2 separate regions of the Homo sapiens genome follow, and region 2 is linked to region 1. The links come from fine-mapping of genetic effects on gene expression. A gene starts in region 1. The other region holds a variant in brackets. All regions are shown on one strand. Distances are from middle to middle.

Region 1 (8,335 bases):
CTTCTTTCTAACATTCCATCCAAACAGTCCTGCTAGATGCTGTTCTCTTGGCATGGCTAGCCAGCTTTCCCAAAGCCTCCATAGGCCACTAAGCTTCTGTCCACACGGCTGGCTGGTCCGTCAGTTTAAGTCACCCAATTCAACTGACATCATGACAGCTTGCAAATTCCAAAATCACTGTTGGTAATTTAGATGTGGTAGTGTTTATGCCTGGCCTATGAATTATACCACCACGTCTTTATTTATATGCAACTTGCATCATGCTGTGTTGAAAGCAGCTTCCCAGTCCAGCACTTGAAAATACTTCTCAGATAGGTTTTCATAGCAATTAAAAAATAAACACAAAACCCGGGAAAGCTATGTCTGTGTACCCAAAAGATACCTAAGAACACAGTAGCATAGAGAGCAGGCTGAGTTGTCTCACTCAAGGATGTGAGTTCAGATTCATTGATCTCCCTGACTGAAAACTATCACCCATTGATTGAGGCACTGTATATCTTATCTCAGAATGAAATGAATTCTTAAGTCTCATGAATTCTACATGAATGAATGAAAGTGTTTCTGCAACTTTCACTTCTCTTGCAGCCCACCAAAAACAATGGCATTTTCTAATAGGAAAAACACATTGAACGCTGTATATGTGCGTATGTATATGTGTGTGTAGTACATACATATACTTTATTTTGAGACAGGTTCTCACTCTGTTGCACAGGGTGGAGTGCAGTGGTGTGCACAGCCTACTGCAGCCTCAATTTCCCAGGCTCAAGCAATCCCCCTGCCTTAGTCTCCCAAGTAGCTGGGACCACAGGTGTGCACCATCACGCCTGGCTTTTTTTGGTTTCATATATATATGTTGCCTAAGCTGGTCTCAAACTCCTGATCTCAAGCAATCCTCCTGCTTTGGCCTCCCAAAGTGCTGGGACTACAGAACACCTACACTTTTATACATTCTATATGCATCAAACAAACATATGTCTGTGACAAGAGAGCAGCCTATCACAGCCCAGAGACTTCAGAATGGGGACAGGTTGGAAGGAGGAGCTACCTATCCCTGAGATGATGAAGAGGACCAGTGCCCATTCCAGGAGACATCACCGCAGCCCTGAGGAATCGGCTATGGGCACCAGCAGGGCACAGTGCCACACCTCGCCAATGCCTTGTCCTCCTTTTCCATAGTGAGTCAGTCAGCAAGCGTCGCATTGCCCTGGGATCGGCACTGCACGTAGAAGTGAGTTCCACACTCTCTTCCTCCCATAGGGAGATCACTTTTCTCATTCTAAGGGTTCCAGGCACACTCACAATGGTGGCATTTGCTGAGCAGTGGCTTGAATAAAGGGCTCTCAGAAAGCAAGATGTAACTCAGAGCATAGGCTTGTCCTCCAGGGCACCCAGCCCCAGGAATGCTCTTGGGGAATGACCTGCAGCCTCCCAGTGAAAGAGAGAATAAAAGAAAGCCCCAGCAGGCGAGCTGGGCAGTAGAGAGTCCTGTAATTCCACCTTGGCAAGCACCATTTGCAAGAACGAACTGGGATAAGGTAAACAAAATATTGCCTAAAAGAGGCTTGTCCAAAGAAGTCAGAATACGCTCTTCATTTACCTCTAAATTATGTTTCTTAAATACCAAGTAACCTGCAGTACCCCCTGCCGCCACCAAAAAAAAAGAGAGAAATACTTTTTTTTCTCCTATCCACTGCAGAATCAATTTTACAGTGGTTCTGCAGTTAATCCTTTCAGTACACCATAAATCTAAATACTCAAAAAAACCTGTGCCTTTTCAATTGCTACTAAATCACGAGAAGACTGATTTACATAGTCTCCTTTTATCTCCCTTGGCGGGTAAGTACTCAGCTCTGCTCGTTACTAATATTGAAACAACAGCCCTTGAATTGAGTGATTTCCCTAGAAAGGTTAAGGTGACCGAATCTGAACACTCCCTCCATGTCTTGGACACGAAGTTTTTTGCTGCGTAGACAGTTTTATCCCCCTCACCCCAAGGTCAATTGCACGAATTCTTTTGGAAAACAGGACCTATGGCATTTCCCAGACAAATCACCGTGAACCCTGTACTGTGCATTGCTGTCCTAAAATTAACACATAAATCTATTGCCGCCAAAGATTCTGTCATTTGTGTTACATAATTGCCTTTCATTTGAACTCATTAATCAAATTGGGGTTTTTAAGCAACACCTAATTAATTCTTTAACTGGCTCATATTATACCTTTAATGACTTCCACCAGGGTAAAAACCACTGATCACTGAGTTCTATTTTGAAACTACGGACGTCGAGTTTCCTCTTTCACCCAGAATTTTCAGATCTTGTTTAAAAAGTTGGGTGTGGTTTCATGGGGGGAGGGGGAAGAGCGAGAGGAGACCAGAGGGACGGGGGCGGGGACTCTGCAAGAAAAACCTTCCCGGTGCAATCGTGATCTGGGAGGCCCACGTATGGCGCCTCTCCAAAGGCTGCAGAAGTTTCTTGCTAACAAAAAGTCCGCACATTCGAGCAAAGACAGGCTTTAGCGAGTTATTAAAAACTTAGGGGCGCTCTTGTCCCCCACAGGGCCCGACCGCACACAGCAAGGCGATGGCCCAGCTGTAAGTTGGTAGCACTGAGAACTAGCAGCGCGCGCGGAGCCCGCTGAGACTTGAATCAATCTGGTCTAACGGTTTCCCCTAAACCGCTAGGAGCCCTCAATCGGCGGGACAGCAGGGCGCGGTGAGTCACCGCCGGTGACTAAGCGACCCCACCCCTCTCCCTCGGGCTTTCCTCTGCCACCGCCGTCTCGCAACTCCCGCCGTCCGAAGCTGGACTGAGCCCGTTAGGTCCCTCGACAGAACCTCCCCTCCCCCCAACATCTCTCCGCCAAGGCAAGTCGATGGACAGAGGCGCGGGCCGGAGCAGCCCCCCTTTCCAAGCGGGCGGCGCGCGAGGCTGCGGCGAGGCCTGAGCCCTGCGTTCCTGCGCTGTGCGCGCCCCCACCCCGCGTTCCAATCTCAGGCGCTCTTTGTTTCTTTCTCCGCGACTTCAGATCTGAGGGATTCCTTACTCTTTCCTCTTCCCGCTCCTTTGCCCGCGGGTCTCCCCGCCTGACCGCAGCCCCGAGACCGCCGCGCACCTCCTCCCACGCCCCTTTGGCGTGGTGCCACCGGACCCCTCTGGTTCAGTCCCAGGCGGACCCCCCCCTCACCGCGCGACCCCGCCTTTTTCAGCACCCCAGGGTGAGCCCAGCTCAGACTATCATCCGGAAAGCCCCCAAAAGTCCCAGCCCAGCGCTGAAGTAACGGGACCATGCCCAGTCCCAGGCCCCGGAGCAGGAAGGCTCGAGGGCGCCCCCACCCCACCCGCCCACCCTCCCCGCTTCTCGCTAGGTCCCTATTGGCTGGCGCGCTCCGCGGCTGGGATGGCAGTGGGAGGGGACCCTCTTTCCTAACGGGGTTATAAAAACAGCGCCCTCGGCGGGGTCCAGTCCTCTGCCACTCTCGCTCCGAGGTCCCCGCGCCAGAGACGCAGCCGCGCTCCCACCACCCACACCCACCGCGCCCTCGTTCGCCTCTTCTCCGGGAGCCAGTCCGCGCCACCGCCGCCGCCCAGGCCATCGCCACCCTCCGCAGCCATGTCCACCAGGTCCGTGTCCTCGTCCTCCTACCGCAGGATGTTCGGCGGCCCGGGCACCGCGAGCCGGCCGAGCTCCAGCCGGAGCTACGTGACTACGTCCACCCGCACCTACAGCCTGGGCAGCGCGCTGCGCCCCAGCACCAGCCGCAGCCTCTACGCCTCGTCCCCGGGCGGCGTGTATGCCACGCGCTCCTCTGCCGTGCGCCTGCGGAGCAGCGTGCCCGGGGTGCGGCTCCTGCAGGACTCGGTGGACTTCTCGCTGGCCGACGCCATCAACACCGAGTTCAAGAACACCCGCACCAACGAGAAGGTGGAGCTGCAGGAGCTGAATGACCGCTTCGCCAACTACATCGACAAGGTGCGCTTCCTGGAGCAGCAGAATAAGATCCTGCTGGCCGAGCTCGAGCAGCTCAAGGGCCAAGGCAAGTCGCGCCTGGGGGACCTCTACGAGGAGGAGATGCGGGAGCTGCGCCGGCAGGTGGACCAGCTAACCAACGACAAAGCCCGCGTCGAGGTGGAGCGCGACAACCTGGCCGAGGACATCATGCGCCTCCGGGAGAAGTAAGGCTGCGCCCATGCAAGTAGCTGGGCCTCGGGAGGGGGCTGGAGGGAGAGGGGAACGCCCCCCCGGCCCCCGCGAGAGCTGCCACGCCCTTGGGGATGTGGCCGGGGGGAGGCCTGCCAGGGAGACAGCGGAGAGCGGGGCTGTGGCTGTGGTGGCGCAGCCCCGCCCAGAACCCAGACCTTGCAGTTCGCATTTCCTCCTCTGTCCCCACACATTGCCCAAGGACGCTCCGTTTCAAGTTACAGATTTCTTAAAACTACCACTTTGTGTGCAGTTGAAGGCCCTTGGGCACAATGAGAGCCAGTCCTCCAAACTTTCAGAAAGTTTCCTGCCCCTTCTGGCAGGCTGCCAATCACCGGGCGGGAGAAGGAAGGAGGGGAAGGCGGTGGAGGGAGCGAGACAAAGGGATGGTCCCTCGGGGGCGGGGATGGCGGGGCTGTCCTGTAGGTCTGTGCGGCCACCGTGATTGCCCCTCTGCGCGGTGCCCGAAGTCCCGCTGAAACCTGCCGAGGGCAGCAGGTCTGAAAGCTGCAGGCGCTAGTTGCGCGGAGGTGGCGCAGCTGCTCTGGAGGCGCAGAGCGAATACGTGGTGTTTGGGTGTGGCCGCCCCGCCCCTGGCGGTTTCCTCGTTCCCCTTTGGTTAATGCGCAACTGTTTCAGATTGCAGGAGGAGATGCTTCAGAGAGAGGAAGCCGAAAACACCCTGCAATCTTTCAGACAGGTTTGTAGACTCTCTTCCCACTCGCAGCCGCCTGACCCCACCCAACACAACCCACGAGCAATTCTAAAAGTTGCTTAACTCACGTCTAAAAAGTGCAAAACTTCAGGGCTGCGCGTAAAGCCCTCTAGTGGCGGGAAGACCACAGGTTGGAGCTTCTCATGATTAGAAAAATATTAATAAAACCCCTTGAGCGATTTTTTTTTTTTTTTTGAGACGGAGTCTTACTCTGTCGCCCAGGCTGGAGTGCAGTGGCGAGATCTTGGCTCACTGCATCCTCCGCCTCCCGGGTTCAAGCGATCCTTGAATGATTTCTAAGCAGTTCCTTGGGACATAAAGAAAAATCTTTTAACTTTTTACTTTGTTTCCCAAATGTTGCACAGTTTTGCAACACATTGACCTTCTGGTTTCGAACGGTTACAATTTTAGATTGTGGTTTGCCAAAGTCAAGTTGCTTAATTTTTACAAGGCCACAAAAAGCGCAATTATGCCCTGCAGTTTAAAATGGAAAACGTGTTGGAAGATAAGAAAACTTAGTTTCCAACTGGAATGGAGCCAGCAAGTTTCTTTTCTTCTTTGCAAATTCTATTGTGTCATTAAAGTTCGATGGAAGTATCACTATGCACAACTATTTTGTGATCTAATAAGGGTGAAAAGGAGCCATCTGTCCCCTTGGCTAAGGGGTATTAATGGTTTCTATGGGCTTCACTATGGAATGTAGATACAGACATTCTGGCAAATGTGGTGGCTCTGGACAGAAATAATAGGAGTCTTTGTATTCCCAGGGAAGCTTTGCAACAGGCTACATTCTTACTGAATATGTAATGATGTAAGCACGGTTCTAATTGGACACAAGTATTTGCTAACATCCGTTATCTAATATCTGGCCCAGACTTGAGAAGTAGGTAATGTAAAAAGTTTTTAAAGCTACAAGCATACCTCACATTTTAAAAGTCCTTTCTTGATTGGGTTCTTGTGTTCTTTAGCACTCTTGCCATAAAAAATAATAACAGTAATAAACCCAAGGCTGAAAAACTGAATTTTAACTAAAGGGTTTTTGTGCGTGTTTTTTTTTTTTTTCACCAAAATTAGATGGACTTACAGAATTTTTAACTTAAAATTGGAATCCAAAAGCCAGAAGATCCCCATTATAGTTTATAGTTGTATTCCCTGGAATATTTACTGGGATTAACTGCAAAGCACTCTCAGATGAATAGTGTAGTATAACATTTTGAAACTGAAATACATTTACCAAATTAATTTAACCACAGCAATGTGTGTGGTTCATTTTAGTCCTTGAGCATTTTTGATTATCATACCTGTCATGTTTTCTGCAGTGTAGTGAGTTAACATAAAACAACATCAATACAAAAGATCCTCTGTTTCGAGATTAAGCAAAATTCCTCATTCTCTTCAATGTGATAGAATACCACATTGATCTTTCTTTGGAGGTTAGTAAAATATCTTTTATGTATTTTTCAGGGCTTAACAAGTAAAAATCAATGTTTTCATCAAGTCTGATCTTTTTGTCACCCACTCTTCATTCATTTTTCCACTAAGGTGATAGAAAAGTCTCAACAGTTTAAGACCGTAAGGCTATGAACTCCAAATATAATTGCTGACAAGATAAGCAATCCTCACGCATCCTTTTGAGAGGAAATAAAATCTTAGTTGCAAGATTACATATTCTGATTTGGAATGCTGAGCTTTTTAAATGGAAATATAGAAGGACGGCTGAATCAGCAAAAATCCTTTATGTAGTTTCATTCTTTGCAAGCTTGACCAGTCATTCTGAAACAGGCTAACTGAACTGATACAGTGGCAAGTGAAAAAGACATGCCTTTACAGGATGAGTCAAAGGAGTTTTAGAAGAAAAATCCACCAGAGAAAGCCAAGCAAATACAGTTCAGAGTTACATTTCTTTTCCATTTTTTCCTGAACTGAATCTTTGGCATGCATATCCTGAATTGGGTTATTGAATATAAATCTAGCCTTGTACAATGGATGCCAGATGACTACATATTTGCTTTGGAGCCTAAGGATAAGTTTCAAAAGATTTGAGTGGAGAAGAAAAGCTAAAACTCTTGAAGCACAAGTTTCTGTTCTCCATGTACTCAAGTGTACATGAAGTTGTGAAAATTTGTCCACCTCTATCATCATGTTATTCCATGAAATTACAAAACAAATCTTAAAAATGTTGTGGCATAGATTTTCTAGATTTAAAAAGTAATTAAATTAAATGAATTACTTTATTTTTTGAGACAGAGTGTCACTCTGTTGCCCAGGCTGGAGTGCAGTGGCACTATGTTGGCTCACTGCAACCTCTGCCTCCTGGGTTGAAGAAATTCTCCTGCCTCAACCTCCCAAGTAGCTGGGACTACAGGCATGTGCCACCACACCCAGCTAATTTTTGTATTTTTGGTAGAGACGGGGTTTCGCCATGTTGGCTAGGCTGGTCTCGAACTCCTGACCTCAAGTGATCCACCCGTCTCAGCCTCCCAAAGTGCTGGGATTACAGGCATAAGCCACCATGACCAGCCTTAAAAAGTAATTTTAAAATATCACTGGTAAAATGTGGATTCAGTCATGATTGAGTGCAGTTTACCATGTGTGTGGACATTTATTTATTTTAAAATTGTCTGATCACCACCTTGAGTAAAACACAAGCAGTCACAATTAAAATATATTAGTGAGCAGGAGAAAGCACAGCATATTATAGCACTGAATGATTTATAAACCTATTCCAGGGTCATAAAATGTGTCAACGGCTTTTCTATAGTAAGGAGACTAGGTTCAGATGGTTAATCTAAGACAAATAAATGAGATAAGCCATACACTTTTACATCCTCCATGTCCTGTCTTTTCTCTGTTCAAAATAGGATGTTGACAATGCGTCTCTGGCACGTCTTGACCTTGAACGCAAAGTGGAATCTTTGCAAGAAGAGATTGCCTTTTTGAAGAAACTCCACGAAGAGGTTAGTGGAGTGACTTTCGGGGAATGAATGAGGGTAAGGCAGCCCCCACGGTTGGCAGAGCTGACCGTCTGTCTGTTCTTTTTGCAGGAAATCCAGGAGCTGCAGGCTCAGATTCAGGAACAGCATGTCCAAATCGATGTGGATGTTTCCAAGCCTGACCTCACGGCTGCCCTGCGTGACGTACGTCAGCAATATGAAAGTGTGGCTGCCAAGAACCTGCAGGAGGCAGAAGAATGGTACAAATCCAAGGTAGGAAACAAATCAGTGCGGCTTCAACCAAAGAAAAGCATTGTGTTCTCAAAACCCCATACCTGTGTGTGATTCCTAAATATCCTCTAGCTCCAATGCAAAGCTGGCTTTGACTTCTTGCTCATATTGTGTTTGCCACCACAGCCTCCCCACCACTCACATCACCTCCTTTATTTATTTATTTATTTTCTTATTTATTTATGAGACAGAGTCT
Region 2 (8,335 bases), 48 kb after region 1:
AATCCACCTGCCTTGGACTCCCAAAATGCTGGGATTACAGGCATGAGCCACCGCACCTGGCCTATTATCTCTTTCTTTCCCAAGGAAAGTATACGAGAGTTCTTCATGGGGATAACTTTGCATCCGCTCTATTTTAATTTTTAAAAAGTGAATCATTTGTCAACTTGGGCCATCAAATTATTATTAGTTACCACTGAATCCCAATGTACCTCACAACTAATCTCAGTGCTTCTATGGAGAGCTATGACCAGAGACCTTCCTCTAACCAAGGCTCAGCAAACTACTTTTGTAAAGGGTGAGGCTGTAAATATTTTCAACCTTGGGGGCCATATGGTCTTTGCCGCAACTATTCAGCCCTGCTGCCGTAATACAAAAGCAGCTGTAGATGATGATGACTCAACCAATGGGTGCTAGTTATGTTCCAATAAAACTTTATTTGCGATGATGAGCAGGCTGATTGGGCTCAGGGGCTGTGTAGTTCCCCAACCCTGTTCTTACCACCTCTCGCCCACTCTTGGACTCAGACAGAACCCTCATCTCCCTTCATCATCCAGTGTTAGCCCATCCTTGGTGGGTTTCTCTCCTCTGCAATTCACCATCCTCTCCCCTCCAAACAAAATCCGAGGTAGCTTATTTTTCCTTGAACATTTGATGTTATTTTACTTACATTTCTTAAACTGCTGTCTGATATCTGGAAACATTCCTGTGCCTTTTATCTTATTTTTGCCTGCGGTAATATGTACTTTTGACAGAGAAGTGTGTTTGAGAGTGCATTGCCTCATTAAAAAGAGTACTGCTGCATGTATACGTTTTCCACTCAGCAATAATTATTGCCAAATAGAGCAAGGCTTCTAATTAACAAGCAAATTCCAAATTCCAAATGGTGTACCAGACTACTTAATTAGATCTGTTGCTTTTTAATTCCCTCACTGAAAGTCTCAGGCATGGCTTTAACTCTATTTTGTCAGTTATTTTCTTTAGCCTAACCCTGGTCTTACTGTAAGTCATGCTAATTATTCTCACTAATTTATTTGCTTACTGTAGTTAGAGGCTCTCTTACCCTACACAGTTCAGGGAATGTCAAAATCTCTGTGACCCATAACTCTGGTTTTATCTCCCAGACAACAAGAGCAATACCTGACAATGGTTTTGTTTGTTTTTCAGATCTAGGTGTTTTTTTTTTTCCCTCTCTCTTGCCTGCAACCTCTACATTTGTTACACAATAGAATATTTCAACTCAAACAAATGGCATGGAAAAACAGTACGTAGCCTGGTTTTACTAGAGAAATGAAGCTCAGGGCTAACATGAAGATACGGTGCTAGGGAACGGCAGGAGAGAAGGTTGAAAAGCTTAAGTAATGAGGATTTTGCAGAGAGGACTCCAGAGTGCTTTCCTCCTGTCCTTTTCTCTGGACTCCAATTTCCAGCTGTTTCTCTGCAGTTTGGCACCTGCAAGCGGTTAGCAGACCTGGAGGATGTCAGCAAAGCCTCTACCCAGGCCCACAGGAAGTAGCTTAGGCAGGATTTGTTTCCCTCTTGATGCCAGATCAACTGTATGAGATTTCTATTACTGCTGTTACAAATGACCATGCATTTAGCAGCTTAAAAACAGCACGAATCTATTATCTTACAGTTCTGGAGGTCAGAAGTTCAAAATAGGTCTCACTGGACTAAAAGAAAATTGTTGGTGGGGTTGTGTTTTTTGAAGAGGCTTTAGGGAAAAACTCCATGTCCTTACCTTTTCCAGGCCACCTACATTCCTTGGCTCATGGCCTCTTCCTCCATGTTCAAAGCCAGCAAAGGAGCCTCTTCAAATCTCTACAGGACTCTGACCCTCCTGCCTCCCACACCTAGATAATCGAGGATAACCTCCCCATCTCAAGGTCATCTGATTAGCAACCTTAATTCCATCCACAATCTTAATTCCCCCTTGTAATAGAACATATTCACAAATTCTTGGGATTAGACATCTTTGGAAGACCACTATTCTGCCTATTACCTCAACTGAGTCTAAAATTCAATAATTGAGAGTTCTGGGGCGTCTCTATGCATTTCATCAAAATTGCTGAATTCCAAAATGAAGAATAAATTTTTACATTCTAGACATAAAATTTAGTAATGTATACATACACATATAAGATTAGCATTACATTTATCTGTGGAATGAACATGGAAGAGTTTGGACACCCACAGACTAAAATCCAGGAAATGTGTTTCCATCTAAGATATCATTCAGCCATCAAGGAAAACAAAGACATTTATAAATATGCCAGAATTCCAAAACTATATAATCTGTGAACATCCCAGGAGAATATTCAAGAAAAAAACTTTTAGCCAAACAACAAAATATCTCAGATATCAGAGGACAGAGAAAGGGGAAAAGAAGATTAAATAGTGGCCAATAAAGAACATTTCAAAAAATGTATACATTGTTAAGCCTAAACAGAGAATGGTAGAATATAAAAATTAGAAATTATGCATTTAATTTTTTTGGCTGATCTTAGTGATAGAAATCTAATTTGCCATTTTATTTGATGAGAAGCCTTGTGAGGAAACTAGATTTGGTGACTTAAGTCCTTAAGGGCTGTGCTAATACTGCCTTTCTTAGTGTTAGATACGGCTAGGTTCCTCTGCAAACAGCATGCCCAGTTCTCCTGTTCGTTATTCTCTCATTCCAAGTACCCACCCCCTGCCCCCGCTTTTGCTGCGCCTTAACCTGTCTAAACATACTTAGACATGCCACAGCCCCAGTCCACATTCCTTTCCTTATGTGGGAATAGGTTAGCTTTCTAGTGCCCTGTAGGTGACCCCTTCCTTCTCCCCCTCTCTCCTCTATCACACACCTACCTTAACTAAGAAAGTTTAAATGTTTACCCAATTGAGACCAGTTTACATTGTGCGGTCCAAGCCCAGGCAATGGGGGGAAAGACACAGAGGCAGAATCTGCATTAGGAAGAAAACCCCCACTCTTCTTTGCTCCGCATGCTCTCGTGACAGCCAGGTTTATGAGCAGCACCCTTCTGCGGAAGTAAATTTACCTTGCTGAGAAATTCTTTGTTTTACTGCTCATTTTCTTTGTGACCCTGAGCTCTTACTTCTGACATTAGCAAGATAACAAAAAAAAGATAAAGAATATTTATTTCCTGGTGGCCACGAGAGCACTCTAAACAAACAAACAGTGCTAGAAACTAAAAGCATTCATGGTCTGGGAGAACAAACCGTGTGCTAGCTCAGTTAGAGGTACTGTCCCTAAATTTACTGATAGTTATAAGAAAAAAACAACAACAGGAATTCCTGAGGAATGTAAGTGTTTGACAACAAGGCCTGTAAATATAATGGTTTAACCACAAAGCTTGAAAACGTTTGTTATGGGAAATTGATTTTCTTCACTTCAGCTGTAAATTAACTCATCAGTTTTGTGATAAGTAACCTACCACTCAGGATGTGAACTTTCTGGCCTTGTGATAATGAATCCACCACACTGTGCCTGTTCTCCTATTTTTTAGAGAGCTTTTTCTTCCCTTACCAGTTCTATTCCCAACAGTATAGAAGTGATTTAAGCTGCCTCTGACAGATCTGATCCATATAGAGTACAAAGCCTCTTTCTTCCATGCACTGTGAGTGAAATACTAACAACAGCCTTGTACTAAAAGTTATAAATTTAGGAAAAGCTAGGCCTTGAGGGGATGGGAGTGAGTTAAGTAAAATTAAAAGTAGTCTAAATTTATCTTCTTTCTGGTGTATGAATAAAAGCAATAGGGAAATAGAGTATCTGAAGTATATAGGAATTCTATCTTGCTTTCATGTAATAGTCAAGAAACAGTATTTAATTATGAAGCTAATTGTTCAAACAAAGAAAAAAACTAACACATTTTCAAAAGAAGAAATTTTAAGAGACCACATTCCTTGATCATAATCTGATACAGTTAAGCAAAAAATAAAACTATGCCTCTATTACTCAGAAAATAATAAATCCACTTCTACTTAAATCTTTGATAGAAGAGAAAAGTCAAAATAAAATCATCAACTATAGGTAGACCAGTGAAAGGAAGGCCACTACATTCTAAAACCTCTGGCACACAGGCCGGGCATGGTGGCTCCTGCCTGTAATCCCAGCACTTTGGGAGGTCGAGGCAGGCAGATCACTTGAGGTCAGGAGTTTGAGACCAGCCTGGCCAACATGGTGAAAACCCATCTCCACTAAAAATACAAAAATTAGCTGGGTGTGATGGTGCGCACCTGTAATCTCAGCTACTTGGGAGGCTGAGG[T/C]AGGAGAATCGCTTGAACCCAGGAGGTGGAGGCTGCAGTGAGCCAAGACCACGCCACTGTACTCTAGCCTGGGCAACAGAGGAAGGAATTTATCTCAAATAATAATAATAATAAAAGCATCTGGTACACAATGACAACTATACTCATTGGGAGATTACAACCTTGAAAGCTGTGTTGGGGGTCCCCAAGACCACCCTCAGGCTTGTCAATATACTAGTAGGACTCAGAGGAGTCATAAAAGCCGTTGTGCTCACAATTACACTTTATTGCAGGGAAAGATGCAGATTAAAATCAGCAAAATGCCAAGGGTCATGGAGCAAAGTCCAGGAGAAACCAAGTGCCAACTTCCAGATGTCCTCTCCCAGTAGAGAAACACAGGTGCATTTAATTCTCCCAGCAAGAATGTGTGACTATACATGCAAAATATTGCCAGCCAGGGAAACTCACCTGAGGCTTGGTGTCCACGGTTTTTATTGGCAGAGTCAGTAACATAGACGTAGTACATGCATGATTGCCCTCAGCCTCTCAGAGCAAAAATAGCAAAAATAAGCATCACCATAAATCACATTGTTAGCATAAACAATCTGACTAAACTAGTACCAGGTAGCCCCAGGCCTCAGTCATGCAAAACTCTCTGATCCTGCAGAATATTTCAACATCTCAGAGCTCAGCTCCCAGGAGCCAGCTAGGGCTGATCGTAAAGGCAGGCCTTTTTTGGGAACATGTGGAGTTTAGCAGCCAGACCTGCAGTTAGCACCTTCTGCACAAATGTCTCCACGATTATAGAAGAAACAATAAATTTTTTTAAAAATTCAATGCTTGGTTTAAGAAATTAGAAATAAAAAAACAAAAAGTAGCACAAGAAGGAATTAAGATAACAAAAAAATAAAATGTAATAATAGGTTAAATATATCCCAAAGCCAGTTCTTCCAAAGGACCAATAAAATAGACAAACTTTCATGAGTTTAATCAAGAATTAAAGAGGACAGAAATATACAAGCTTAGGAATGAGAAAGAAAACATGACCGTAGATAAGGAAGGCATTAAAATAGTTTTAAGAATATCCTAGGACAATGCGTAGAAATAAAGGTCAAAACCTGGAGGAAATGTGTATTTTTTTAGCAAAATATAAGCTGCCACTATTGATCCCAGAGGAAGGAACAACCATGAATAAACAAATTACCATAGAAGGGATGGACAAGATAATGGAAGATCTACAATTAAGAAAGACAGCAGTATAAGATATTGTCACAGCTGAGGAAAGCCCTCTAGCAAGGAGATGCAGGTGTTGGCAGCTGGAAGTCCAGCAGGCATTCACAGAAAAGGTAAGAGTGAGAGGACCTGACAGAACGCTGATAGTATCTGCAACAACTACTAGGGCAAAAATATGTTAATTGCCCTGGTAGGCAAGGAAATGCACATTAAAACAATAGACATCATTGTGCCCCATAATATTGGCAATTACAAGGGGGAATTACAGATGCTTATGGCTGGAGGCCCACAGGAAAAAAAGATTCTCTTATATTTGGTGGTGGAAGTATGAATTGTCACAACCTATTGAGAAACAATCCAATAATATCCATTAAAATTCAAGTTGTGTGTGTGTGTGTGTGTATGTAATTTGTTTTAGCAAGTTCTAGGGATCCATCCCATGGAAATAAAATAAACACAACAATCTATAGGAATATATGATCAGGGAGATTTTACAGCAATATTGTAGAGATTTTTAGAAAAGAAAATGCCAATCAATAGGAAAATGGCTGAAAACATATTAATACCTCCATACCATGTACAATTGTTCAGCTATTAAAAATGAGTTATGGCCAGGCATGGTGGCTCATGCCTGTAATCCCAGCACTTTGGGAGGTTGAGGCAGGAAGATAATTAAGGCCAGGAGTTCAAGAGCAGCCCAGGCAACATAGTGAGATCCCACCCCTACTAAGAATTTAAAAAACTTTAAATAAATTTATAAAATAAAATTTTAAAATGAGTTAGATCTAAATAGATCAAATCAGAAGAATTTTTCAATGTATTATTAAGTGAGAAAGCTAAGATATGGAGGAATTTCCATAATATGATTTCATTTTAGTAAAAAAAAAAGTTAAATCACATTGTGTCTGTGTTTATGCTTGTACAAAAGCATGAAGGAAGGTCCAGAAGGATGCTCAGTAGCTTGGTACACAAGGTACCCTGCTTCTTCTGGTGGTGGAGAGAGATGGTAGTAATGCCAATGTTTGGGAAGGAAAGAGAGAGAGAGAGAGACCCAAGATTAAAAAATATGTATGGTATCTCTGTTAGCCCATTTTCACATTGCTGTAAAAAAAACTCTCTGAGACTGGGTAATTTATAAAAAAAGAGGTTTAGCTGACTCACAGTTCCATATTGCTGGGGAGGCCTCAGGAAACACAATCATGGTGGAAGGTGAAGGGGAAGAAAGGCACTTCTTACATGGTAGGAAGAGAGAGAGACTGAGGGGGGAAGTGCCACACTTTTAAACCATCAGATCTCGTGAGAACACCTCACTATCACAAGAACAGCACGGGAGAAATCTGCCACCATGATTCAATCACCTCCACCAGGCCCCTCCCCTGACATGTGGGGATTACAATTCAACATGAGATTTGGGTGGGGATGAAGAGCCAAACAATATCAATATCTATGCATCATTCTATATGTGTATGGATATAAAGAAATATATGAAAAGCAGGTCTCCAAAATTAAATAGTGTCATGTGACAAGATATCAGAGATGGTTTTGCCTCTCTGTTTCACATATTTTTGAGTCTTAATTTTAATTAATGTGTGTTTGTATTAGTCAGGGTTCTCCAAGGAACAGAACCAATGGCAGAGAGAGAGAGAGAATAGATGATTTGATAAACAGAGAGATAAATAGATGATTTAATAGATAGTTAGAGAGATAGGAAGATAGAGGATAGACATAGATATAGATAGATGTTTAGATAGATAAATACATAGGAAGATAAATAGATGATAGATAGGGAGATAGAGAGGAAGACTGATAAATCATAGATGATTTGATGGATGATAGATATATGGATAGGAAGACAGATAGTCATATGGTTAGGCTGTATCCCCACTCAAAATCTCATCTTGAATTGTAATCCCCATGTGTCAAGGATGGACCAAGTGGACGTAATTGGATCATAGAGGTGGTTTCCCCCATGCTGTTCTTGTGATAATGAGTGAGTCTCATATGATCTGATGGTTTTATCAGCATCTGGCATTTCCCCTGCTTGTTCTCATTCCGTCCTGCTGCCCTGTGAAGGTGTCTGCTTCTCCTTTGCCTTCTGCCATGATTGTAAGTCTCCGGAGACCTCCCCAGCCATAATAAACTGTGAATCGATTAAACCTCTTTCCTTTATAAATTACCCATTTCTTCATAGCAGTGTAAATTGGTACCGGAAGTGGAGTGCTGCTAGAAAGCTACCTGAAAATGTGGAATAACTTTGGAAATGGGGTAACAGGCAGAGATTGGAACAATTTGGAGGGCTCAGAAGAAGAAAGGAAGATGTGGGAAAGTTTGGAACTTCCTAAAGACTTGTTAAATGGTTTTGACCAAAATGCTGATAGTGATGTGAACAATGAAGTCCAGGCTGAGGTGGTCTCAGATGAAGATGAGGAACTTGTTGGGAACTGGAATAAAGGTGACCCTCGCTATGCTTTAGCAAAGAGACTGGCAGCATTTTGCCCCTGCACTAGAGATCTGTGGAACTTTGAACTTGACAGAGATGACTTAGGGTATCTGACAGAAGAAATTCTTAAACAGCAAAGCATTCAAGAGGTGACAGAACATAAAAGTTTGGAAAATTTGCAGCCTGACAATACAAGAGAAAAGAAAAATCTATTTTCTGGGGAGAAATTCAAGCCAGCTGCAGAAATTTGCATAAGTAACGAGGGGCCAAATGTTAATCACCAAGCCAATGGGGGAGATGTCTCCAGGGCATAACAGATAACTTCATGGCAGCCCTACCCCCATGACAGGCCCAGAGGCCTAGGAGGAAAAAATGGTTTTGTGGGGCAGGTCCAGCGCCCTGCGGCTGTTTGCA

What was found. PIP is the estimated chance that this variant, and not a neighbour inherited with it, causes the effect.
Region 2: its variant is fine-mapped to the expression of VIM-AS1 in whole blood (TOPMed, PIP above 0.99).

What each region holds. Positions count from the first base shown.
Region 1 is chr10:17,225,811-17,234,145 of GRCh38, forward strand. It overlaps VIM-AS1 (VIM antisense RNA 1), which reads right to left and starts at 4,175. Exons shown (of 3, transcript NR_108061.1): 1 at 3,535-4,175. VIM (vimentin) reads left to right here and starts at 2,431. Exons shown (of 10, transcript NM_003380.5): 1 at 2,431-2,714; 2 at 3,466-4,175; 3 at 4,840-4,900; 4 at 7,777-7,872; 5 at 7,960-8,121. The coding sequence starts at 3,613. RefSeq lists silencers at 910-1,124, 4,160-4,339 and an enhancer at 3,760-3,849.
Region 2 is chr10:17,274,216-17,282,550 of GRCh38, forward strand. No RefSeq gene overlaps it. Among named protein-coding and RNA genes, the nearest start is that of VIM-AS1, 48 kb to the left of the region's middle. The variant T/C (reference allele first, on the strand shown) is at 4,270.